Linked DNA regions of Homo sapiens. The protein of the gene in region 4 purifies or fractionates together with the protein of the main gene of each other region. This does not show direct contact. Each region holds a gene or a part of one and is shown on either strand. Other genes may lie near its edges.

Region 1 (3,500 bases), on a different chromosome or scaffold from region 4:
AGGGAAAGATGGGGAAGTGTGCCGAAGAGCCTCCAGGCATGACAGACAGTCCCCTGACCAAGCACAAGTAACAGGCCCTTTGGGTCTCTGCTTCTCACTGGAAAATGATGAAGCCTAGATCTGATGACTCCTAGTGCCAACATTTAACAAAGTTCGAAAGTTATGCAGGACTTCACACATGTACGGAATGGCTGTATCACAGAATATTATGCGTTAGAAAGTTCACGGTCACTATACCTAGCTCTAAAATTTTTCAGAGAAACAGCAGACTAATAAGTGAATCTTAAATAAAGGAATAACATTTTAATGAAATAAATGAAACAGAGCAGGGAAACCAAAGAGCCAATTAGGGGAAGAATCCTGAAAAAGTATGGCTTCACACAGCAGCAGCATTGAAGAAAACACTATCGATTTTTCCCAGAGAAAAAAACTCCAAAAATGTCCAATAACCAAGTGCACAGAGTTATGGTCAATAAGACTTTGAACATGCATCACACATACATAAGTACATAAAGAAAATTTTCATTTATTTTTCCCTCAGATATACTTCAAAATAACATGTAGACACAGAATCACAAATATATACAAAACAAAGTATCGCCTGGTTATTTCAAGAAGAGTTTTCCCTCAATTTTCTTAGCTGCTGTGCATAAAATTCAAAGCTTTCCTGTTAAGGAGAAAAAAAGAGGGAAGTTAGAGATACCAGCAAGAGGTGATGGTACATAACTTAAAAAATCATAAAACACTACCAACTGGTAGCTAAGACTGCCAGGCCCATGGAAGATGCTGCCCCTCAAGCTTCAGTACTCCTTCCTTGTTTCATGAAATCACAAGTTCAAGGGCCTCGGGTTCAGAGTTAAAGCTAGCAGCAGGAGGTAGGGTGCGTGTGTGTATACGTGTGTATGTGCAAGCATGTGTGTGTGCACATATGGAGGTATGGGTATGGAAGGCTGAGGTGTTTGAAATAAACACGGTGTATTGACTCAGTTCAATGACATAACAAAAAGGAATTGTGCATATGTGATTTCTCTTATTAAAGAAAACATGCCGGGCACAGTGGCTCACGCCTGTAATCCCGGCACTTTGGGAGGCCGAGGTGGGCGGATCACGAGGTCAGCAGTTCAAGACCAGCGTGGCCAACATGGTGAAACCCCATCTGTACTAAAAATACGAAAATGTGCCAGGCATGGTGGCAGGCCCCTGTAATCCCAGCTACTTGGGAGGCTGAGGCAGGAGAATCGCTTGGACCTGGGAGGCGGAGGTTGCAGTGAGCCGAGACCGTGCCATTGCACTCCAGCCTGGGCAACACAGCGAGACTCCATCTCAAAAAAAAAAAAAAAAAAAAAAAAAGGCAAAATTTCCTAGACGAAGAAATAAAAACCAACTTATGTAAATGAACAAGTAATTACCACTGACATAATATGCTTGGCTGTTGAACTACAGGCCATTAAATCCTATTTCAAGTTGAAATGAGAGAACTGCCCCAAGGACATTTGGTAAATCCATGCCTATAGCTGAAGGTCTGAGACAGACCTTGTATTTTAAACTGTGGCCCCAGAGAGCTATGTTCTCCGACTGCCGCAGCCAAGGCATGCTGCTCAGTCCCTCAAGCCATCCCCTGAGGGCTCTTCACAGAGATCTAATCCTCATGTAATTAAGTCTTCAACTTATTTTCTTACACATTGTTATGAAGTGCACATAAATCTGCAGAGGTATTTTTTCCCCTTAATTAAGAAATACTCACAGGGGGTTCAATGAAAGGGACAGGCTCTCCAGCATACTTCAGCAAAGATGCGTAACGCTTTAGAAACAGATCATCCAATTTTGTATTCTTTGCAGTCAAATGTTCATACAGTGCTTTAGCAGATGTGACATCTTTCTCTGAGACTGACATAAAGAAAAAAATATATTAATCAGAGATAAAGACAACCTATCTTACTCTTTTCACCAAAACAGCCACTCAGGGACGGCTGGATCCCTTTATCCCACGGCAAATGAACACTTAACTACTTTCAGTAAGAAGCCACATTCAGAATCTACCATCTCCCTCACTTCTCTACATCCCTCATTCGGCATCACTCACTTTGAAGGAGAAGAAAATGACAAATATGGCTACATTTAAAGGACTTTAGAATAATATTGATACCATTCACTTAGGTTATTACATTATTTAAGACCTATGATAGTTCAAGTGACCACAAACTGAAGTCCTCAGTTATAAAATAATACACACCATTCAATCCCCTTTGGCTTAAAACCACTGTGAAATCAAGATAATCCAGGAACTGTTGTGGAGAGGGACATGTCAATTATGTAGAAATCTACATCAACATCAAGATCATCAGCTCAACATCAAAAAAGCTTTTCATTTTTCTATTGTAAAATAAACAAATATGGAAAGTATAGTTAGCTACAATGATACACACACACAAAAAACCTATAGGCCGGGCGCAGTGGCTCACGCCTGTAATCCCAGCACTTTGGGAGGCCGAGGTAGGCGGATCACGAGGTTAGGAGATCGAGACCATCCTGGCTAACATGGTGAAACCCTGTCTCTACTAAAAATACAAAAAATTAGCCGGGCGTGGTGGCGGGTGTCTGTAGTCCCAGCTACTTGGGAGGCGGAGGCAGGACAATGGTGTGAACCCGGGAGGTGGAGCTTGCAGTGAGCCGAGATGGTGCCACTGCACTCCAGCCTGGGCAACAAGAGCGAGACACCATCTCAAAAAACAAACAAAAGCAAAACCTATAAGGAGACATTAACAAGTTACACTAGTTTCACTTAAGTGAATGATGAAATATGTTAGGAGCCAAATTTGGCTGGCTCTCTACTTGTGGCTGATTTGTGGAAATTTTTTAGTTTACCATGGAGATGGTAAGGGCTCTGCTAACAATTACTGCTGGTAATTCAACTCCTTAATTTTGCATTAGATTGTTAGCATCTAAGCATCACATAAACCCCTGCCCTACACTGACTCTGATATTGTCAACCGCAACTCCGGCAGCACCAGGGGAACCCCTAAGACAGAGGTGAGACGTTCAGCAATCAAAGAGTCTCCCAAAGTGGAATGAGGGTGACTCATCAGCTCTTAGTGGAGTTGGAACACATCTTTGCTGTTTCCATGAAGTCAACTTCTTGTGTAAATCCTTTATTTCCCTTCCTGAGGAGCTGAACCCTTTAAGGGCTCAAGCTCTATCTTCTAGGAAGCTGCTCCGAAAATTCTGGCATCTTGCCTTTCTTTACTTCTTGATTTTCTACCTTCCTCCCAAAATGGATTACCTAATTTAGTAGTAACACACACAGATTTATGCGCTTGACACTATTTCACATTACAGGCATACCTTGGCTTTAATGCACTTTACAGATGTTGCGTTATTTACAAATTGAAGGTTTATGGTAACCCTGCCTTGGGCAAGTCTATCAATGCCATTTTTCCAACAATATGTGCTTACTTTGTGTCTCTGTGTCACATTTTGGTAATTCCTGGAATATTTCAACC
Region 2 (3,500 bases), on a different chromosome or scaffold from region 4:
GAAAAAATAAAAACAAAAAAATCCCAGCAACAATAATAATAATAATAATTAGCCAGGTGTGTTGGTGTGTGCCCTGTAGTCCCAGCTACTCATGAAGTGGAGGTGGGAGGATCAACTGAGTCCGGAAGGTTGAGATTGCAGTGAGCCGTGATCACACACTGCACTCCACCCTGGGTGAAACAGCCCATCTCAAAAAACAGTTCATCATAAGCTGAAAAAAATCAGATCTGCTATTACACGAATTTTAAAAAGTGCACACGTAAAAGGACTGAGTACAGTAATAAATACCTGTGAACCTACCTCCCAACTTAAAGCAGGATACTAAAAAGTCAACTTCAATGAATTAATATGCCTAATTTAATAAATTCAACCCTGGTGATCAACGGGATGACAGGTGTCACAGCCAGATAGTCCTCACATTGGATAAGTTCACCACATAATTCCTTTTTTTGTAGAGATGGGGTCTTGCTATGTTGCCCAGGCTGGTCTTGAACTCCCAGCCTCAAGTGATCCTCCTGCCTTAGCCTCCCAAAGTGCTGGAATTACAGGCATGAGCTAACACATTCAGTCACACAAAACAATATTTAGAGATTTTTTTTCACTTCAGTCTTCATGTTTCTCTAGGAAAAGAGAAGGGCTTTGACTTAATGGTTAAAAACTAATATAAAAATTGGTAATATCAATCAAGGCACTTACATATAATATTGACAAACATGATTCTTTTTTCTAAATATTTCATTTTCCAAGGTAAGAAATTCGATAGCTATGTTTTTCTCTCCTTCTAAGGCATCCTTTTCCTTTTCCACCATCTTTACCCTGTTTAACTACAGAAATTAAAAGTTTAAAGACTGAATACACACTTCATATGTACAATATGAACTTAAAATATGCAAACATTAGATAAAAACAGTTAATAAGGAGAATGTTCATCTTAAATGTTAAGATATAAATTTCAATATAACACTTCTTCATTAAGTATTATAACATGAATATCTGACTTACTAAAATTTGTTAGATCATAAATGAAACATTCTGATTTACAATGAAAGTCTACAGATGATTCACCTTCTCTCCTCTGTGTTCATTTAATATTTCAACTCTCCGACACAAGACTTTAATAGGTTCATTTAGCCGTCCACAACCAATTATATCTTCTAAATATTCAAGCATACCCTCATCGTGTTCAGTCTGGCCTTTTGGTTTCATCATAGCAATTTGTTCAACTTCACCCTTTAAAAAAAAGTTATATTTCATACTCACTGTGTATGTTTAGCTAAATCAATCTTAAGTGAGAATTGGGAGCAGTTAAATAATAAAGCCAAGAGTAATAAACATCTAAATAATGTACAGTTAGTAGTGCAATGATTTAATAAGGTATAAATAAAAATGTTATTTTCACTGGTATTCCTAAGAGTTTTAATTTTACACAGGGAGATATGAAACATGAATTTATATTCCCTTAGATAAATCCTTATAAAAGTGTAATATACACCCACTTACACACACTCATTTCCCCAACTAGAATGTTCAATATAAATAAATAAAACTTGTTTCTTTAAGTAAAATTTAGGAAAGCTTTCACTTAATCTGCAATCTGATTATAGTGGAAACATTATCAATTGTTAATAACACAATTGAAGCTCCTGTTCTAAAACAAAGAATTTTCAAAAACACTTGCATGGTTAAACTGTGTTAGGAACCCTGTCCCAAAGTAGTATTACCAACTTTCTCTACAAACATGGTTTTTAGGAGTTCCTTAACAAGTAATGGGTTTCAAAGGTAGTCAAAAACTTACATGTTCAGTTTTCTAAAAACAAGAGCCTTTGACAGAAAAGGATATTACCTATTTCTCATGGTAATAACAGAAATCAAACAGACCACCTTGACTAGAGAAAACTAATGGCACTGGTACATAAGACATCAGAAAACTTTCAGTTTGTAATCACTAATATAACAACTTTGAACTGTAATTAAAATCTTAGATTAACTTTACATATTTGCATTTATGCAGTTTAATTATGAAGAGTAAAGAGAAAAAAAATCCATAATAAGTAACCATCAAGGCTGACTGCTAGGCAGTCATTTAGTTTGATGGTGGAGAGAAAATTGTGTCTGAGTATGTTCAGGCCAAATGCTGCTACGTTATAGGAGTAGCTTGTTTGTACTCTAGACTATTACAATGGAAGAATAGGTACAGGCAAATGAAAAAAGATATACCTCTTATTTTCAACAAAATAGCAAAGACGAAAAAAGTCAACAAAAAGAATTACACATTAAAAATAGTATATTGTTTTCTTAATTCAAATATCTTAGTGATTCCTATTTCCTAAGTGAATACAGGTGAACCTTAAAAATGTGGGGTAAAACTTACTAATGAGAGCATCATAATTCACCAAAAGCCTCAACATAATTACAAAAAGTAAACAATTCAATAACAGTGGACAAAACAGCTTATTTGAAAATCTACTCATTAAGAAATAATTTTATTTGCATAAATCACTTTTCGATACTTCTGACAGTCTATAAGCACAATGATTATCAAAGTAAAACTGTTACCCCAAAAGTTATTTTCCATAACATTCATTATATTATGTATGAATCGGTATATAAGTGAAAATATGTAGATATTTATATAAAGTATTTTATTCTGCTTTCAACTGTTAGTTCTCTCTAAATGTTTGCAGCAAGAGTTTAAGTTTTAGACAGGATTGAAGCCTGGAAAAATGCCCAAACCTTTGGATTACACAGGATGAACGTTAAGTCACTGAGGAAGCCAAGAGTCTTATTCAAGTTTGTATCTACGTAGGGTTTATCAACAGTGGCACTACTGACATTTTGGGCTGGATATTCTTTGTTGTGGAGAGCTATGCTGGGCATTATAAGATGCTTTAATAGCATTTCTGACCTTCACCCACTAGACACCAGTAGCATCCCCACTTCTACCAGCTATAACAACCGAAACTGTCTTCAGACGTTACTGAATGTCCTATGGGAAAAGGGGCAGAATTACTGTCAGCTGAGAACTACTGATCTAGAGGCTGCAGTTTGTTTGTTCACTCATTTATTATTTTTTTGAGACAGGGTCTTGTTCTGTCACCTAAGCTGGAGTACAGTGGTGTGGTCTCAGCTCACTGCAGCCTTGACCTTTCAGACTCAAGCGATCCGCCCACCTCAGTGTCCCAAGTAGCCGGGACTACAGATGCACACCACCACACCCAGCTAATCTTTAAAAAAAAATTTTTTTTGTACACATGGTGGTCCCTCTATGTTGCCCAGGCTGGTCTCGAACTCCTGGGCTCAAGCGATCCTTTTGCCTCAGCCTCCCAAAATGCTGGGATTAAGGGCATGACCCACCATGCCTAGTCTAGAAGTTGTAGTTTAAATCCTGTGGGTTAGTGTTTATCATCCAAATAAAAAACAATATCTGACAATTAATATTCTACCCAATTCAAGGAGAATATCTGAACACTTATTTTAAGAAAATGAAAAACCATCCCAAA
Region 3 (2,256 bases), about 26 Mb from region 4:
TACACCATTGTTCCTTACCTTTACATAATTGCAATATTTCCCCCTTACTACTTCTTGGAAAAAAATTACAAAATGAAGTTTTATAGAAAAGATGGATTTGCTTTGCTTGGTTTTTCTTATTTGAGCTACCAAGAGGAGAGAACTCTGATTAAATATCTTGTGATTTAAATCCTGCCCCCTCCCCAAGAAGGTGGGGACGTTCAGAATCACACTTGAAGAGGGGGTGCATTGCCTGGTCCCAGGGAGAAGGAGGGAGCAGATGGGGAGGAATGAGGCAGGGAACCATGGTTGGGGTTTTCTGAATTTGCTGAAGCCACTAGTTGGCATCCTTTAACAATTCTACAAACCTTTAGATGGTGAGGCTTATGTGGCAGGACTGGGAGGGTTTAATGCATGCTTTTTGACAGTTTGGATCTGGAGGGGTCTCAGGCTTCCACAAAAATTACATTGTGGACAGTTTCATAGGATTTTGCCTTTTAACTCTTCAAAGCAACAGTTTTCTCAACTGTCATCCCCGCGGGGGAGCAGAGGAAGACAAGTGAGAAGGAAAAGGGGACAGGATCTGGGTTGAGCAAGCATTAATTGAGCGCCTTCTGTATCCCGGACATCATGCCAACACCATGGGCTGCCCGAGAAGAGAGGTGGGTGGTTTGGTCCCCAGCTCTGCCTTGAACCCTCACCTGCTCTCCTCTACTCCCAGTGTTTATTGGATATTCCAGAACAGTCCAAACGAACCATAAACTTTATATCACAGATTCAATCTGTGTAAATACTATTATCTTCAAGTTGTAGTTTCTTTCTTGGGCCCAGGCTGTGAAATTGGCTTCACCCCTACCACACCCCAGCGGGCAGGCTTGTTCTTATGTCACACTCCACCCCTCCAGTCTCCTCAACTGGAAAACTTGCCTCTTTTCCTCACTTCCTCTGCTCCTTACAATGGCTTCATATGGAAGGTGAAGCTGAGATCACCCCAATTTTACAGGTGAGGAAACTGAGGTCAAGCTAGGAGCGTCCAGCGGGGCTGAGAAATTGCCAGGATTTCCTTCCCCATTAAGGAGCTGAGAGTCTTAGCTCCAGACACGTTGGCTTGTTAGAATATCAAAACCACCGAAGGGGAAAAACCACTTACTGGAATTAAATGCTATCTGCTGTATTAGTTTAAATCAGTGGCGTTCAAACTTGTTTCTCCTTTTCACTGCGGAACACGTTCTTGACATGTACTTGACTCAGAGTCCCATGTCTAAAGGAGACAGAGCCCAAGGCAGCCCACCTGAAGCTGGGGAGGGAGTCCAAAGTGCAAGCCACCTGGTCTCCATTTCCCCGCCCCTTGGGGGCCTTTGGGCAGCTCCTTGGACCCCTGAAAGAGGCCACCAGGATAAACTTTGTTAAAATGCATGCCTTGTGCCCCACTGTCCTATTACGGGCTTTCAGTAGTCTCCACTCCCTCGGCAGGCAAAGACACTGGCCATCTCCAAATTCCCTCCCCTCCTGCACAGCATCAGCCACCTGGCAAGCAGTCTCACATAGGACCATTTGCCAGCAGGCCCTGCAAGCCTGGGGGACAGCCTAGAGGAGGTGACTTACATACACAGCATAAGAGTTTTCAGGAGACCAAAAAGATTCAATATATGTCATTAACTCCTGACTCAGTTTCCCCAAACCATGCCTCCTGAGTGCTCCCTCTGTCTCCAAATCCTGATTTTTGTGCGCGGACCCCTGTCTACAATAAACAGGATCCTATGACTTCTTTCTTCAATGTTCTCTTGTCGTGCCTTCAGATGATGCAAAGTATGTAAGCTAAGCCCACTTGCAGGAAGCTCACAGAAGGCAAGAGGCTCATCACTTGAAAATACGGTTGGAGTGAGATGGAAAGCCCAGAGTCTCCTGATTCCTGGTCTACCACTGGACCACATGACTCCAAAACCAACACTGTGACTGACGTCCTCTACTGGAGTCCAGTGTAAGAGCTGTCCCCTGACCTCCAGGAAGCTGTGTTGCAGTCTGGGTTAAAGACCAGAAAACAATAGTTACACAGCAAATGTTGAACCAGGACAACAAACCTGCCCTTATTCCCAGTCGAGTCACTTAGGGGGCACTGACAGGTAGGCAGGCGGGGTGGCTAGGTGGGGCCGGGGCACACTTGGGAGTCAGGAGTTACAGGGCTCTTTCTCTTCTCTCCCTCTCCCTGGGGACCCACCCTAACCTGGACACCCCCGGGCTGCTCACTCGGCCCTCTGGATGCCAACAGCATGCACC
Region 4 (3,475 bases):
AATTACAGGATAGCAAGGGACATAGAGCCCTGGGGTCCCCAGGTCAGCCAGCACATGCAGTGAATATGGGCCAGTACTTAGTATGAGCTGGAGGTGTGTTTGTGTGAAGCAAGAATGGTGGCATTTCAGGCAGTGAGAGAGACCAGTCAGGACAAATCTCACCATCTAGGCAGGAGCACTCCTCCTGTGGACCCTGTTTTCATGTTGGGTTTATTGTGGCCTTTCAGAGAAATGGGTGGGAGGAAACACAGGGGTCCCACTCCTCTGGGGTCTGCAATCAGAGCACCTGGGCACAATGATGGGCAGCAGCAGGCTGGGAGCAAGATTCCCAAGGGGCAGCACTGTCTGCTTGGCTCCATCCCAAGCGGGGAGGCACTACTGCTGATGCCACAAACAAAAATCCCGTTTTCTGAGCTCAGTTATACTCCAGGCCCTATCCTAGATCCTTGACCTGTGTCATCTGATCTTCGAAAGCCTCCTTGACTCTGATCATGCACTCCTGATTTACAGGTGAGGCCCAGAGCGGGGAAGTGATTTGTTCAAGGTCACACAGCAAGTAAATGGCAGAGCCTGGCCGGAACTCAGATGTCTTAACCCCAAGGCCAGGAACAGGCTGAATATGACCCTTTCAAATCAGCTGGTGTAGCTGGTCCCAAGGTACAGAGTGTCCTTTTCCCATTTCATAGCTGATGAGACTGAGGCTCGGGGAGGTGGAGAGTCTTGGCCAAGGGCCTATCACAAGGGCATGGTTGAGACAGAGTCAAACCTGGGACTGGTTGAGTTGAACACCTGTGATAGCTCTCTGGCCTGAGTACTTTGTCCTCCTTCAAACCCCCTCCCCCTCCCCCACCACAGAAGGCAGCTGTCTGTCCATCTATGGGTCCATCCAGGGGAACTTACATGGGTACCTCAGGGGTATCAGCGACCGGGATGCGAAGGTAGGTGATATCCTGCAAGTACAAAATACACTCAGGCAGGGGACCTTGCCTGCAACCCTCCCTGATGCTGGTCCGAGCTGCCCAGGCAGGGCATAACCCCAGCCCAGTTCCTGCCCTTCTCTGGCCCACTGTGGTCCTCTCTGTCCAAAGAAAGTAGTTGTCATCTCTGAGGCCTCCCAGCTGTGACCACTTGTGATTCCTGAACCTTCTAAGCACATGGTGTCTCCTAACCCCATCAGCGGCGTGGGCATGACGTCACCTATCCCTCCCAACAGGGACCCAGGAACCTTTATCAAGTAGCTAGGAAAGGGCTACTTAAAGGGACTCCACTCCAAATGGGAATTACAAAATTACATCGTAAAAAAGGTAGAGCAGATTTGATTATCTTGAAAAGAAACAAAAATCATGAAAACAAGTATACATTTCAGGAATCATGGTTATAAAATGATGTGCTGATTATGAGAATAATCAAGGAATAAATTGTCAGGAATTTTTTCCAGCAAACTTGCTGTGATGTCCTTTGTTTCCTGATTAGCCACACAATATCATGAAGATTATTTTTGCCCGCCTCCTGAGGACCTCCTTGCTTTTCTCGAGAAACTGTCTTAACATTTTTATATTCAAATGGCTCTTTTCAGGGGCCAGGCCCGTCACTGGCAGTAACTAAGGGACCACCAGCCAGGTTCTCATTTGTCCATGGCTTTGTGTGAGATTCCAGCCCTTCTCTCACTCACATTCCCCAAGGTCATGACATCCTGCATCTTTGGCAAGGTTTGCAATTTCACTTTGCAACACATTTGGCCTTGGGTTTGTGTGGTACTATCAAACCCTGCCTGGTAAATTTGCTGATGGAGGGGGGAAGGAGAGATGCTTGGGAGAAGCAGGAAGGGCCGTAGGAGCAGAGACTCATTGTGTAGGCTGTCATTTCATTAGTAAATACACTCATGACTTGACAACCTTCCCCATGCACTCTAGTGACTGTTTACTCCAAATACTCCCAAACGAGGCTGCCCTATGAGGCAAAATAAGACTGCAATGGCCTGGAAATTTCTTCTCTGAATGACATTGAAAATCATAGATTATTAGAGGTTGCTGTTAGAGAATATCAAATCTGACATATGGGAAAACTGAGGCCTAGAGAAGGGAAGGACCTTGGCCAAGATCACACAGCAAGTCTATGGCAGAACCGGGTCTTCATTTCAGATCTCCAGGACCTTTTCCCACCCATGGTTCTTTCTCTCCAGTGGATGATACAGACTCTAATAGATAAGGGTGAAGAGGCTCTGTTTATGGGATAAGAATATGATTAAATTTGTTATAGTATCAGTTGTGATTTGTTGAGCATCTATTTATGTGGTTCCCAACCACTCAGTGAAGTGGGTACTGTTATAAAGTTCCCGTTTTACAGATCAGGCAACTGAGGCTCAGAGGGGGCAAAGTCCTGTCCCCAAGGTCATAGAGCAAATAAACAGTGAAGATGTTCCTGACATAAGCACGTGTAGTCTGGATTTATTACTTTCCTCTGCTGGGTCCTAACACCCTCATGCCCCTTTCCCAGGACTTGATAATACCAGCACCAACCGCCCTAGAGGGGACCATGCTTTACAGTGTGCAAAGCATCTTCACCATCCTGCAGTCCCTTTGCATCCTCACAGCAGCCTTCTGGGGGCAGACAGAGCTGAGGGATCAAAGCCCTAGAGAGGTGAAGTCACAGCCCAAGGTTGCATAGCAAGATACAGAGCCCACAGTCATCCATTTGGATTCATCCATCCAGTTGGGTCATGGGAAGCCCATATGGGGGCCATTTTAAGGTTCAGTGTGAGACTTCTGGTGCTAGATGGCCTGTGTTCATACCCCAACTCCTCAGCTTCCTGGATGTGTGACCTCAGGTGAGTTAATTGACCTCTCTGGGCCTCAACTGCCAAATAGGGATGATAATGTAAAATGGCCCAGTGGTGGAGACCAAATGAGTTAACATGAGTCAAGAAGGAAGCATAGCACCTAGCACATAGTAGATATTTGATAAACAGGTCTGCACCCTCCCACCCCCGCATAGCCCTGGGATGGGGGTAAGAAGTACCTGCAGCAGAGGCTGGGGTGACTCATGGATAGAGATGATGTGTGTGATCTTATTTCGGCCCAGCTGATCCAGGTCTTTGGCATCTGAAAGAAACAGGATGCTTGAGCCAATCTGGCTGGCGGGATGTCCTGATGGCCAAGTGCGGAGGGAGCTCACTGCCTGCCCAGCTCTCCCTCTCACCCCACCACTCCACCTTGGCCCACGCTCTGCCGGCTCCCTGATCCTCTTGCTTCTGGGGCACATGCAAGTAACAGTACAGCATATCCCCATCCTTGCTCATTCTGTTCTTTCCATCCAAAACACCCTTCCCAGGCATATTCTTTGACCCAGCAATTCTGCTTCTAGGAATCTTGTCTACAGAAGCGCTTGCTCACACAGAAAGCTGTGTGTGGAGGATGATGTTCTCTGCAGTCCTGCTTATATCACAAATAGTTTAAACATGGGAACAACCTGGTGT
Region 5 (3,500 bases), on a different chromosome or scaffold from region 4:
CCACATGGTGTAGACACCTTGTGAAAACCCTTCATCAGGATCTAGTTAATCTCACAGACCTATCCACAACACAAGGAAGCACCAGGACTGGTCCTTCCGGCCCTCGCCTTCCTCCCATCCTCAGCAGAGTTTGTGGCCTCTCCGACGGGCGCCCCACCTCCTTGGGCCTCTCCCCAGACCTCAGGTCTGCACCCCTGGGGCCTAGTTCTATCAACCACACTGATCTTCTCTCCTCACACTGTCCCTTCAGCACGGAAACACTCAAGCCCACCCTCCTTTAATAGAAGGCAAGATGTGATCAGATGCCAAGAAGAATAAAAATTTAAAAAATAAATAAAAAATAAAAATTAAGAAAAGAAGGCCCCCCACACTCTACCCGGAACCTGTCTCTACCTCCTCCCTACAGACGCATTCCCTGGAGCAGCTGTCCAGGGGTCATGTCCGGTCTCCACCCCCCGCAGCCTCCACCCTGTGGCCTTCTTCTCTCACTTTACCTCTTGCCTTCAGTTCATCCACTACCCCAGCTTTCACCAAGACCCACCCGCAACCCAGTGAGTCCCAATCTACAGTGCGAGCCCAAACCAAGCCTCATGGTGGTCTTCAGGGCCCCCATATGGGTGGGGCTTCCAGGCTAGCATATCGGTAGCAGGGTCACCTCCTGCCTCAAGCCCCTTCTCTACCCATTCCCTGTCTCCACGGATGGCACAAAAACCCCAGGTGCCAACCCCTCCCTAAGAACCAGCATCCCTGGGCCTCCCCCTGCCCCACATGACAGATCCTGAATCCTCACAACCCTCACTCCCTGCCTTGGATCAGGACTGTCACACCGTCACACGCTAAACCGGCCCCAGCCTCCTGGCCTCCCTCTCCAAGCCAAGTGCTGAGCATCAGAGCTAAACAGAAACGCATTCAGGCTGCAAGCACCCCAGTGGCACTGTGCAGAATACAGAGGCCGTGGAGGCCCCTCCATTCCCTTCCTTCCCTCCCTCCCTTCCCTTCCTTCCCTCCCTCCCTTCCCTTCCTTCCCTTCCCTCCTTTCCTCCCTCCCTTCCCTTCCTTCCCTTCCAGCCTCCTTCTGTTGGCATTTCCACATCCACCTGTCTTCCCAACCAGTCATGTCAGAGCCCCCGAACGCCGTGACTCTCCGAAGCTCTGAGCTGCCTCCCACCCTAGCTCATATGGAATCTGTGGTTGTCCCGTGAGGCTTGTCCTGTGAGGCAGCCGGGCTGCCACATCCCAACCTTGCCTGGGCAGAGCAGCTCCATGAGGTCCTAGGTCTGGGACCTGTCAGCTGAGTGCGTCTTTCCAGCGGCTTCCCCACCCCAGAGGCTGATGCTCAATGTGCCTGGTCACTGATGAATTGTCAGTCAACAGTCAAAGACAGCACATCCCGGGCCCTGGCAGGGTTGCAGCTGCCATACTCTTGGGTGACCTGAAACGGCCTCTCGGAGGCCACCCTCCTCCCATGAGATGTGGTGACAGCACAGTCTGCAAGAGGCCTTCAGATCTCGCTCACGGACAGCAGTGAGGAGCCATGCTGCTCTGTGGCCCCTACCTGAGGCAGTCCATGTGGATGCACTGGGGCGCCTTGTACTCCCCCTGGCTGTCCTTCTGGAAGCCTATCTCCTGCTGCATGCTCAGACCGTGGACTGCTGCCCGGGCCTCCACAAATGGCCTGGGTTGGAAAGAGGACAGACAAGCAAGTGGGCAGGTCAGGCTCTAATGCCCCTTTCTCCATTCCTCCCTCAGACCCAGGGAGGAACCCAGACACGGGAGGTGCAGAGTGAACCCAGGAGCCACCTCCTAAGTCGACATGGGAAGCGCCCCTGCACCACGCAACGCCCTCCCTCTCAAATGCTGCCCAGTTACTCATAGAGAAGACACAGACTCACCAGTCAAAAAAGTCCCCGTTGTAGGTGACCATGATGGTGGGTTTGGTCTCCTGGACGTGTTCAAACCACCTTTGGATCAGATGAGCCTGAACCCAAGTCACAGCAGTCAGAGGTCTGCTCTTTCTCTTCTTCAAGCTATTCCAAATTCCTCTCCCAAAGTTCAGAAGCAGCAGCCTCATGTTGGCCCTTATTCCTGCCCCGCCCCTCCGCCCGTCTCTGGCAGAAAAGACGGTCATACCCTGAGAACAAAGCTCATGGAGCTGCAATTCTGATCTGACGGAATGCCTGAGGCCTTGGAAAGATCCACATGTCCGTTCTTCCCACAATACCGGGTAGTTTCCCAAGTGATACCTCCTTACCTCATCGGGTTCATTGAAGACACAAAAGGGGCCTTCATATTCTGGCTTGGGGGTGAACTCAAAATCTTCAATATCTTCTGAAACAATCTCCCTGTTGGTGATGAGGTAGCCCTAGCCAAGTTCATTAGCAATCAGCACAAGTCAGAGGCTGCAAAGCCAAGAAATGGCGTTCCCACCCTGCCCACACACTCTGCCTAGAGATTCTCACTACAAAGAAGTCCACAGCAATGTGAAAGTGCTTTAAGCTTCCTGAGAAGAGACGCTCTGTGTGTGGATTCCCACTCGAAAGGGGAGGGTACAGCTGGAGGTCGGAACGGCTTGGTTGCTCCCATTCCTGGACTAACTCATTATTCACTCAACAAATACTAACAGTGGGGCAGATGCTGCTGTAGTATGGGGACCAGACAAGGTCCCCATCCCAGGAGCTTACTTCCCAGAAGCCACCTGCTCACCTGGCCATCGATCATGTAGGAAATCATCATAATCTGGTCTGTCTCAGCATCAGGAAACTTGAGGGGCAGTTTGGTCGTCTCAATGTCAAATGCCAAAACCACAGGGTCCTGTGGGGACAAAATAAGCATAAAGCCAAGCTCTAAACTCCCCATTAGGCCTCCCTGAACACCCACCCCCAGCCTGCTCTACCTCCCTCTGGTTGTTAAAAGAGTCAAAAGGCTCTAGAGCTGGGAGAAGGACCCTAAGACTAACCAACCTACATCAAGAGTATCACGACTCCCTATGGTATGAAAACTGACATACCTAAGAGAGCAGCTGATCACAGGACAAGCCTAAAATCACAGAACTTTAGGAGAAAAACTCTTCAAAAGACATCACCTCATTCTGGTGGTTATGACAACTCTGAAAGGTAACTGTGGCACAGAGATGATATCTTCATTTCGGAAAAGAGAAAACTGAATACAAAGACTTTCCCAACACCACAAAGTCATGTTTGAACCAAGGCCTTCTAGTTACAAATCCATTTTTCACCATGTCCCTTCACTATCAACTACCCAAACGGAAGTCCCAGCTTTCCCTCGAGTGTCCAAATCCTGCCTAGCTCAAACACTGATGTCATACAGTGATATACAACAAAAAAGGAAATGATACTGTCAGAAACTGATGAAAAATTCTAACTCCATATTTCCTTTAATAAAGTATTTGGGGGAAAAGCAGCAAACATATCTTTGAGTCAGATTCACTCTCCAGCACTGAAGAATATTCTCTCCAGAAAACTGGAAATTTTAGGATGAAG
Region 6 (3,500 bases), on a different chromosome or scaffold from region 4:
TCAACACCATAAGCACTGAATTATGAGAACTCTTTAGTATATGGGTCCTCACTTCTCCAACCTTTTCCTCTAGATTCTTATTTCCAATCAAGTCTCTGCTACTTAGTATCTTATTAACTGGAACCCTCTAAAAATGGTATCTATTGGTCAGATGGTAACTTGTGTTTGCAATGATGACTCAAAGGCGCTACAAGATCTTACAGTGTCTTCTGACCCATCAAAAATAGATTAAATTCTGGACACTGCAGTTGATGTCCTAAGTGGATTGTACATATTCCAACTACTTGAAAGTGAGAAAGCCACTGATGGCATATATGGAACCCTGTGGCCCCCTATTAGCTAGAGCGTTCACTAATGGGAACACCCCCTCCTCTGACCGTGCTGTGCCACGGGATACTTGTGCGAAGAGCTTTTCACGGAAAGGGAAGAAAGGAGGAGGAAGCAGGGAAATGGGCCAAGCGGCTTGCTGTTTAGAGCACATGGGAGAGAGATATTTGTAGATTTATGTGTGAGGAATGATTAAGGCTTGTGGGATTTCTTGACATGGAAACTCTGAAAATATGAGCATCAGACTTGAAATCCCAGGGCAGAATTCTACCCCAGGTTTTGGTATTATTTGGAATGGGCACTGGCTTCTGTTTCCTCGCTTGCAGAGGGGATGATGGATACTGAATGACCCAATAGGATGGGGTAGGGAATGGGTCATAAGCCCAACATCTGGGTCCTATGCACCATAAACAGCAATGGTGCCTCTTGCGTCCTGGGAAAAGAAAGGGCAGGTTTCTTCTTTTTTTTTTTTTTTGGGAGGCCGAGGTGGGTGGATCATGAGGTCAGGAGTTCAAGACCAGCCTGGCCAAGATGGTGAAACCCTGTCTCTACTAAAAATACAAAATTTAGCCAGGTGTGGTGGTGGGCACCTGTAGTCCCAGCTACTTGGGAGGCTGAGGCAGAGAATTGCTTCAACCTGGGAGGCGGAGCTTGCAGTGAGCCAAGATTGTGCCACTGCACTCCAGCCTCAGTGACAGAGAGAGACTCTGTCAAAAAAAAAAAAAAAAAAAAAAAAAAAAAAAAACCAAAGCAATTCCTGGATATAAAAATAAAGGAGCTTAGAAGGAGCAGAAAAAAAAAATTTAAAAGCAAAGCACTCAGCAGGAGCTGCGGTTTCTGTTCTTTGTATTGTTCCTCTCTTACACAGCCACTCTGGACAACTGGCTTCCCTGCAGGGACCCTGGCCTGCCACCGATAAAGGAGAAACAGACTCATCTCCAAATATTTGGCAAAAATAAATGAGAATACCCATAAGACCAGGGAGTGTGCTAACTATCACAGTCAGTCACCATCACCCTGGCCCAAGGTCATCAGTCTCTGGCACAGGGGCAGGGAGAGGAGCTGGTATTGGGGTAGGTGTCTCATGGTCCTCTCTGACTTTGACCCCAAAAGTCTGGAACTATCTGTCTAAACTTTACACCTTTCTCATACCTAACTAGGTTTTCAGCCTGCATACCACTCAGCACAAGATGTTCAAAATTACCTCCTAGATGAAGCAACACCTCCTTCAAGCCCCTAGGGCTTTGGTGAACAGGTCTCAGGTCTACTCAAACTCTGTTGTCTTGAGACTGTGAGAGATGTTGGTAAAAATCCCATCAGCATGACAGGTTGGAGTGAAGTCATCTTAGCTCCTTCATCAGGCACACAATCTCTCTTTAGGAGATGTGGGTTCTGCCCTAGCTCTGTCACCATCTCTCCATGTGACTCATCTGAGTCTCTCCTCTTTTCTGTGTCTCTCTGTTCCAAAGCCAGGTTCTGTTCTATGACCCTCTAACAGAGAGCCTTCCCTCCACCTTCAGTTATTTCAGCTGCCTTTCTGTGAACTTGAGCTTGTTGGAAGACAGACTTGTTGAAATTCAAAAGATCACCCATCTCTGACTTTAAATAACAAGAGCTGTCAACTTGGAGCAGTGGATTGGCATTCAGCTCAGAATGTGCAGCTGCTGGGTTTGGTTGGTTGTTGCCTATGTGCATGTGTGTGTGTGTGTGTGCGTGCGTTTTAATATCTATTTGCTAGGAGGCATGAAAAAGCACTTAGCTGGGATAGTGCTGCTATTTCTCTGGAGCTAGAGCAAAAATTTTTTCAGCACATTAAAGCATGCAGTTATGCTAAGAAAAAAAATGCCTGCAAAATTATATCTTGGGGGTTTCCATATTTATCCATCCCCTGGACTATGAGTCAAAACAAGATTTATTTGTGTGGTTCATTTTAAACTGCCAGCACTTCAAGCTCAACTTGGAACGTGGAGAAAAAAAAATCAAACTGCTATTTTTTGCACCATGCTGTACATTGTCACCAATGACAAAGATCGCAGAATGAGGTTTAGCTAGCAGCCCAGGAAGGGAGAGGGAAGTGGGCCAGGACCCCTTGAGCTGAAGAACTGTTCTGCTTTGAGAGAGAAGCAAGAAGGACTGAAAAGTAAATGAACACCTGCTTTTCAGGAGCAGATTTCAGCCATGGACCACAGGACAAGAGAGAAGCAGTGCAGTGTGGCAAAGCCCTCGCTTCTAGATCGGGTGGTGCTGCTGACAAGTGTGGGCGCCTTTGGGAAAGTCACTTCCTCTTTTTGGATCATAGTTTTTCTTACTTATAAAACAAGAGGTTGCATTAGATTAATCTCCACGTTTTTTTCCAGCTCGGAAACACTGGTCTATTCGGCTTAACTCCGCCAATTCTATTTCACTTCCTCGACTCACATGCCCAGGAATCTAGTGCCATCAGAACGACAAGAGGCTCTAAACAAGAAGCTCAGCATCCCAGGACTGCAGACACTGGGGGCCAGCAATCCGGCTCTGGGGGAAATACCAGCCCATACAGGCTTGTACAGGCTGGCGTTCTAATTTCTATTTTCTCTACCCGACACAGGCCCCAGAGTCTTCTGATGTCCAGTTTGTCCCATGGCCACACGTGGGGCCTTAGAGCCTGACTAGTTTCTTTTCCAGATTGGAATGGTTAAACCAATTCTACCCAATTGAGATAAGAAATTGGGGGTGGGTTGGAAATGCCGAGTTGGCCGAAAGACTGCCTGCGGTGACTTCCTATAAGGCACTCAGGAGAATCGGCACAGAGGGCATCTGCTGGGCCTCTTCTGCAGAAGGCCTGCAGGCAAGGTAAAGTTGCCTAGACTGGGTGAAATAGCAGAACAAGGGCAAGGCCACAGTCTTCCCATCTCATCAAGCAGTGCTGGTGCTCTCTTGCACCAAAGGATTTTGGTTCCCTCTGGGCTGGAAGGACCCTCCAGAATCTCCTCATCCACACACATTCCTGCTCCGTCTTGGCCTCCCAGAGAGATAGTCAAATGCCATCATACACTGTAGAAATTTAGGGGCCAGGAGGGAGCATTTGGTCTGCTGCCTTGTTGAATGATTGGCCAAAGTTTCATGGCCAGGAAGTGATCAAGATGGGATAGTAAGAACTTCCTTTCAGGGAACTCCACTACCTCCCCCGAGCA
Region 7 (3,500 bases), on a different chromosome or scaffold from region 4:
CTCCCACAAAAAGGCAGAAGGAAGGATAACTTCACAAGTGCTGGCACCTTTGTTAGGGCCTGGGAACAGGTAGGACAAGGAAGGCAACAGAAAAAAGACGTGGGACTCACAGCTAAGTGCAAAGGGCTGACTGGAATGGTGCTCTCCACATCCTCCAGGCAGTTAAAGGACATTTCTAAGAGCTGCAAAGGACAGGAAAGTAGGTGCTGAGACTCTGGAACTCCCAAGATAGTACCCCAGTCCCCGACTCGCAGTAATCCCCACTAAGCCTCTGGATCCAAAGACCACATTTGATTGAACCCTTAGTTTTGGAATCCACAAACCCTGTGCCCTGCCCCTGCCTCCCCTCCTGCAGGCCGGGCCCCAACACATACCAGTTCGAGGTTCTGTCTGTTGCCATAGGCGGCTGCATAGTGCACAGCTGTGTAGCCCTGCCTGTCCCGCAGGGAGGGGTCTGCACCGTTATCCAGTAAGAACTCCAGACAGCTGGGGAGCCGGGGGTAGACTGTGAGGCAGGGACAGGCCCAGCCCAGGAGGGCACAGTTCTGGGAGGGCCAGAGGAGAGGACCAAGGCCCTCCAGGCCTACCTGGCCGCCACCCGTCCTCAGCTCTAGGTAGGTTCTCTAAATCCTACCCATTCTTCAATGGCAGCTCCAGACCCACTTTACCTTCTCAAGGTCTGCCCTGAACCCCTCTGGCTTCAATGCCCTCCTTTATCCTCTGAATGCTCTCCTAGAGAACCTAGAGCATGATGTTCAGTTATCAGCCTTCTGCTGACCAACATGCTTTCCCCACCTCCAGGCACGCCAACCCCTGCCCTAGGATGCTTTCTCCTCCCAGCCCACCCGAATAAGTCCTGTTCATCTCAAACTCAGTCCCAGCTTCTCTCCTCTGTGAGGCCTTTCCCAGCCTTCCCTGGGGAAGATGCCTCTTCCTCTGTGCTCCCTTGGCAGTCTTCTCATACCTTAGTAGTAGTTGTAGTAGTAGTAATAATAATAAAGTAGCACTTACTGTCAAGCACAGTTCTAAGTACTTCATGTATATTAAATAATTTAATCCTCATAAAGATCCCATGAAGTAGATACTATTTTTATCCTTACTGTGGGTGATGAAATTGAGGCATAGAGAAGTAACTTGCTGAAGGTAATAGCTGAGCCTCTTGGATTTTAGTGTCCTTTTTAAAAAAATAAATCTTAAAAAAAAATTATTTAATTTACTTATTTTAAATGGAGACAGGGGCCTGGCTCGGTTGCTCACATCTTTAATTCCAGCACTTTAGGAGGCTGAGGTGGGCAGATCACCCGCGGTCAGGAGTTCGTGGCCAGCCTCGCCAACATGGCGAAACCCTGTTTCTACTAAAAATACAAAAATTAGGCTGGGCGTGGTGGCTCACGCCTGCAATCCTAGCACTTTGGGAGGCCAAGGCAGGTGGATCGCCTGAGCTCGGGAGTTCAAGACCAGCCTGGGCAACATGGTGAAACCCCGTCTGTACTAAAATACAAAAAATTAGCCAGGCGTGGCAGCGTGCTCCTGTAGTCCCAGCTACTCAGGAGGCTGAGGCAGAATTGCTTGAACCCAGGAGGTGGAGGTTGCAGTGAGCCAAGTTCATGCCACTGCACTCCAGCCTGGGCAACAGAGTGAGACTCGGTCTTCAAAAAAACAATTAGCTGGGCGTGGTGATAGGCACCTGTAATCCCAGCTACTCAGGAGGAAGAGGCAGGAGAATCGCTTGAACCCCGGAGGTAGAGGTTGCAGTGAGCTGAGATCGCGCAACTGCACTAGAGCCTGGGTGACAGAGCAAGACTCCATCTCAAATAAATAAATAAATTAATTAATTTATTTATTTATTTAATTAAATAAAATAGAGATGAGTTCTCATTATGTGTTAGCCAGGCTGGTCTCATACTCCTGGGCTCAAGCAATCCTCCCACCTCAGTGCTGGAATTACAGGCATGAGTCACTGTGCCTACCTGATTTTTGTGGGTTTTTTTTTTTTTTAGAGACGGGGTCTCACTAGGCTGCCCAGGCTGGGGTGCAGTGGCTATTCATAGGCATGATCATAGTGCACTACAGCCTCAAACTCCTGGGTTTGCATGATCCTCTTGCCTTACCTGCACCTGCCTCCTGAATAACTGGGAATATATGCATGTGCCACCGTGCCCAGCAAAAAATAAACTTTTTGTTTTAGAATATTATTAGATTTATAGAAAAATTGTGGGCTAGGTGTGGTGGCTCATATCTGTAATCCCAGCACTTTGGGAGTCTGAGGCAGGAGGATTGCTTGAGCCCAGGAGTTCGAGACCAGTGTGGGCAACACAGAGAGATCCCTGACCTACAAAATAAATTAATTAAAAAAAAAAAAAAAGAAAGAAAAAGAAAAATTGTGAAGATAGTACAGGGAGTTCTCACATAACCTATACCTAGTTTCCCGTCATTAACATCTTACATTAGTATGCATAAGTGTCCTTTTATTTATCTTTCCCAATAGATTATTAGCTTTCGAAAGACAGAAATTTGGGACAATTCATCCTTTTTAAATTTTTATTTAATTTTATTTATTTATTTGTTTTTTTGGAGACAGAGTCTCACTCTGTCGCCCAGGTTGGAGTGGATTAGTGTGATCTTGACTCACTGCAACCTCCACCTCCCTGGTTCAAGTGATTCTCCTGCCTTAGCCACCCGAGTAGCTGGGATTACAGGTGCCTGCCAACATGACCAGCTAATTTTTATATTTTTAGTAGAGACGGGGTTTCACCACGTTGGCCAGGCTGGTCTCGAACTCCTGACCTCAGATGATCTGCCTGCCTCGGCCTCCCAAAGTGCTGGGATTATAGGCGTGAACCACCACACCCGGCCTATTTTTAATTTTAATTTTTTTGAGACAGAGTCTTGTTCGGTTGCCCAGGCTGGAGTGCAGTGGCGTGATCTCGGCTCACTACAACCTCCACCTCCCTGGTTCAAGCAATTCTCCTGCCTCGGCCTCCTGAGTAGCTGGGATTATAGGCGTGTGCCACCACACCTGGTTAATTTTTTGTATTTTTAGTAGAGACGGGGTTTCACCATGTTGGTCAAGCTGGTCTTGAACTCCTAACCTCAGGTGATCTGCCTACCTCAGCCTCCCTAAGTGCTAGGATTACAAGCTTGAGCCACTACGCCCAGCCTCATCTTTTATCCTTAGTATCTAGCACAGTACTTGGAACCTAGTAAGTAAATATTTAATTAATGCTTGTGGAATAAACAAATTATTTTGTACATTTAGCTTTTCTAATCCTCTCAAGAAGACCAGCCGGGCGCGGTGAGCTGAGATCACACCACTGCATTCCAGCCTGGGCAACAGAGTGAGACTCTGTCTCCAAAAAAAAAAAAAAAAAAAAAATCCATTCCTTTAGGGAAGGAACTATGTCTCATACTTTTGGGTTTTTTTTTCCCCCTGAAGCTCCTGAGCTTCAATCTCATACTTTTGTCTTTGCCCACTATGGACTACACCCAGAGGGCTCAAG

What was found.
Region 1: the proteins of DUSP15 (region 4) and LRPPRC purify together in Homo sapiens (affinity purification with mass spectrometry, with the first as the bait; one large-scale study listed by BioGRID). This does not show direct contact.
Region 2: the proteins of DUSP15 (region 4) and SMC4 purify together in Homo sapiens (affinity purification with mass spectrometry, with the first as the bait; one large-scale study listed by BioGRID). This does not show direct contact.
Region 3: the proteins of DUSP15 (region 4) and PCK1 purify together in Homo sapiens (affinity purification with mass spectrometry; one large-scale study listed by BioGRID and IntAct). This does not show direct contact.
Region 5: the proteins of DUSP15 (region 4) and POLE purify together in Homo sapiens (affinity purification with mass spectrometry, with the first as the bait; one large-scale study listed by BioGRID). This does not show direct contact.
Region 6: the proteins of DUSP15 (region 4) and CRACR2A purify together in Homo sapiens (affinity purification with mass spectrometry; one large-scale study listed by BioGRID and IntAct). This does not show direct contact.
Region 7: the proteins of DUSP15 (region 4) and ANKRD52 purify together in Homo sapiens (affinity purification with mass spectrometry, with the first as the bait; one large-scale study listed by BioGRID). This does not show direct contact.

What each region holds. Positions count from the first base shown.
Region 1 is NC_000002.12:43,887,990-43,891,489, forward strand, and holds part of LRPPRC (leucine-rich PPR motif-containing protein, mitochondrial precursor), read right to left. Parts: intron 2,374-3,500; exon of another isoform or gene 2,234-2,373; intron 1,888-2,233; coding exon 1,745-1,887; intron 668-1,744; coding exon 611-667; 3' UTR 1-610. UniProt on the Homo sapiens protein: May play a role in RNA metabolism in both nuclei and mitochondria. In the nucleus binds to HNRPA1-associated poly(A) mRNAs and is part of nmRNP complexes at late stages of mRNA maturation which are possibly associated with nuclear mRNA export.
Region 2 is NC_000003.12:160,409,650-160,413,149, reverse strand, and holds part of SMC4 (structural maintenance of chromosomes protein 4), read right to left. Parts: intron 1,231-3,500; coding exon 1,066-1,230; intron 825-1,065; coding exon 697-824; intron 1-696. UniProt on the Homo sapiens protein: Central component of the condensin complex, a complex required for conversion of interphase chromatin into mitotic-like condense chromosomes.
Region 3 is NC_000020.11:57,566,366-57,568,621, forward strand, and holds the end of PCK1 (phosphoenolpyruvate carboxykinase, cytosolic [GTP]), read left to right. Parts: 3' UTR 1-1,756; downstream 1,757-2,256. UniProt on the Homo sapiens protein: Cytosolic phosphoenolpyruvate carboxykinase that catalyzes the reversible decarboxylation and phosphorylation of oxaloacetate (OAA) and acts as the rate-limiting enzyme in gluconeogenesis.
Region 4 is NC_000020.11:31,864,053-31,867,527, forward strand, and holds part of DUSP15 (dual specificity protein phosphatase 15), read right to left. Parts: intron 3,102-3,475; coding exon 3,019-3,101; intron 951-3,018; coding exon 901-950; intron 1-900. UniProt on the Homo sapiens protein: May dephosphorylate MAPK13, ATF2, ERBB3, PDGFRB and SNX6.
Region 5 is NC_000012.12:132,673,843-132,677,342, forward strand, and holds part of POLE (DNA polymerase epsilon catalytic subunit A), read right to left. Parts: intron 2,812-3,500; coding exon 2,704-2,811; intron 2,363-2,703; coding exon 2,252-2,362; intron 1,979-2,251; coding exon 1,893-1,978; intron 1,676-1,892; coding exon 1,556-1,675; intron 1-1,555. UniProt on the Homo sapiens protein: Catalytic component of the DNA polymerase epsilon complex. Participates in chromosomal DNA replication.
Region 6 is NC_000012.12:3,620,610-3,624,109, forward strand, and holds part of CRACR2A (EF-hand calcium-binding domain-containing protein 4B), read right to left. Parts: intron 1-3,500.
Region 7 is NC_000012.12:56,248,385-56,251,884, forward strand, and holds part of ANKRD52 (serine/threonine-protein phosphatase 6 regulatory ankyrin repeat subunit C), read right to left. Parts: intron 487-3,500; coding exon 375-486; intron 183-374; coding exon 111-182; intron 1-110. UniProt on the Homo sapiens protein: Putative regulatory subunit of protein phosphatase 6 (PP6) that may be involved in the recognition of phosphoprotein substrates.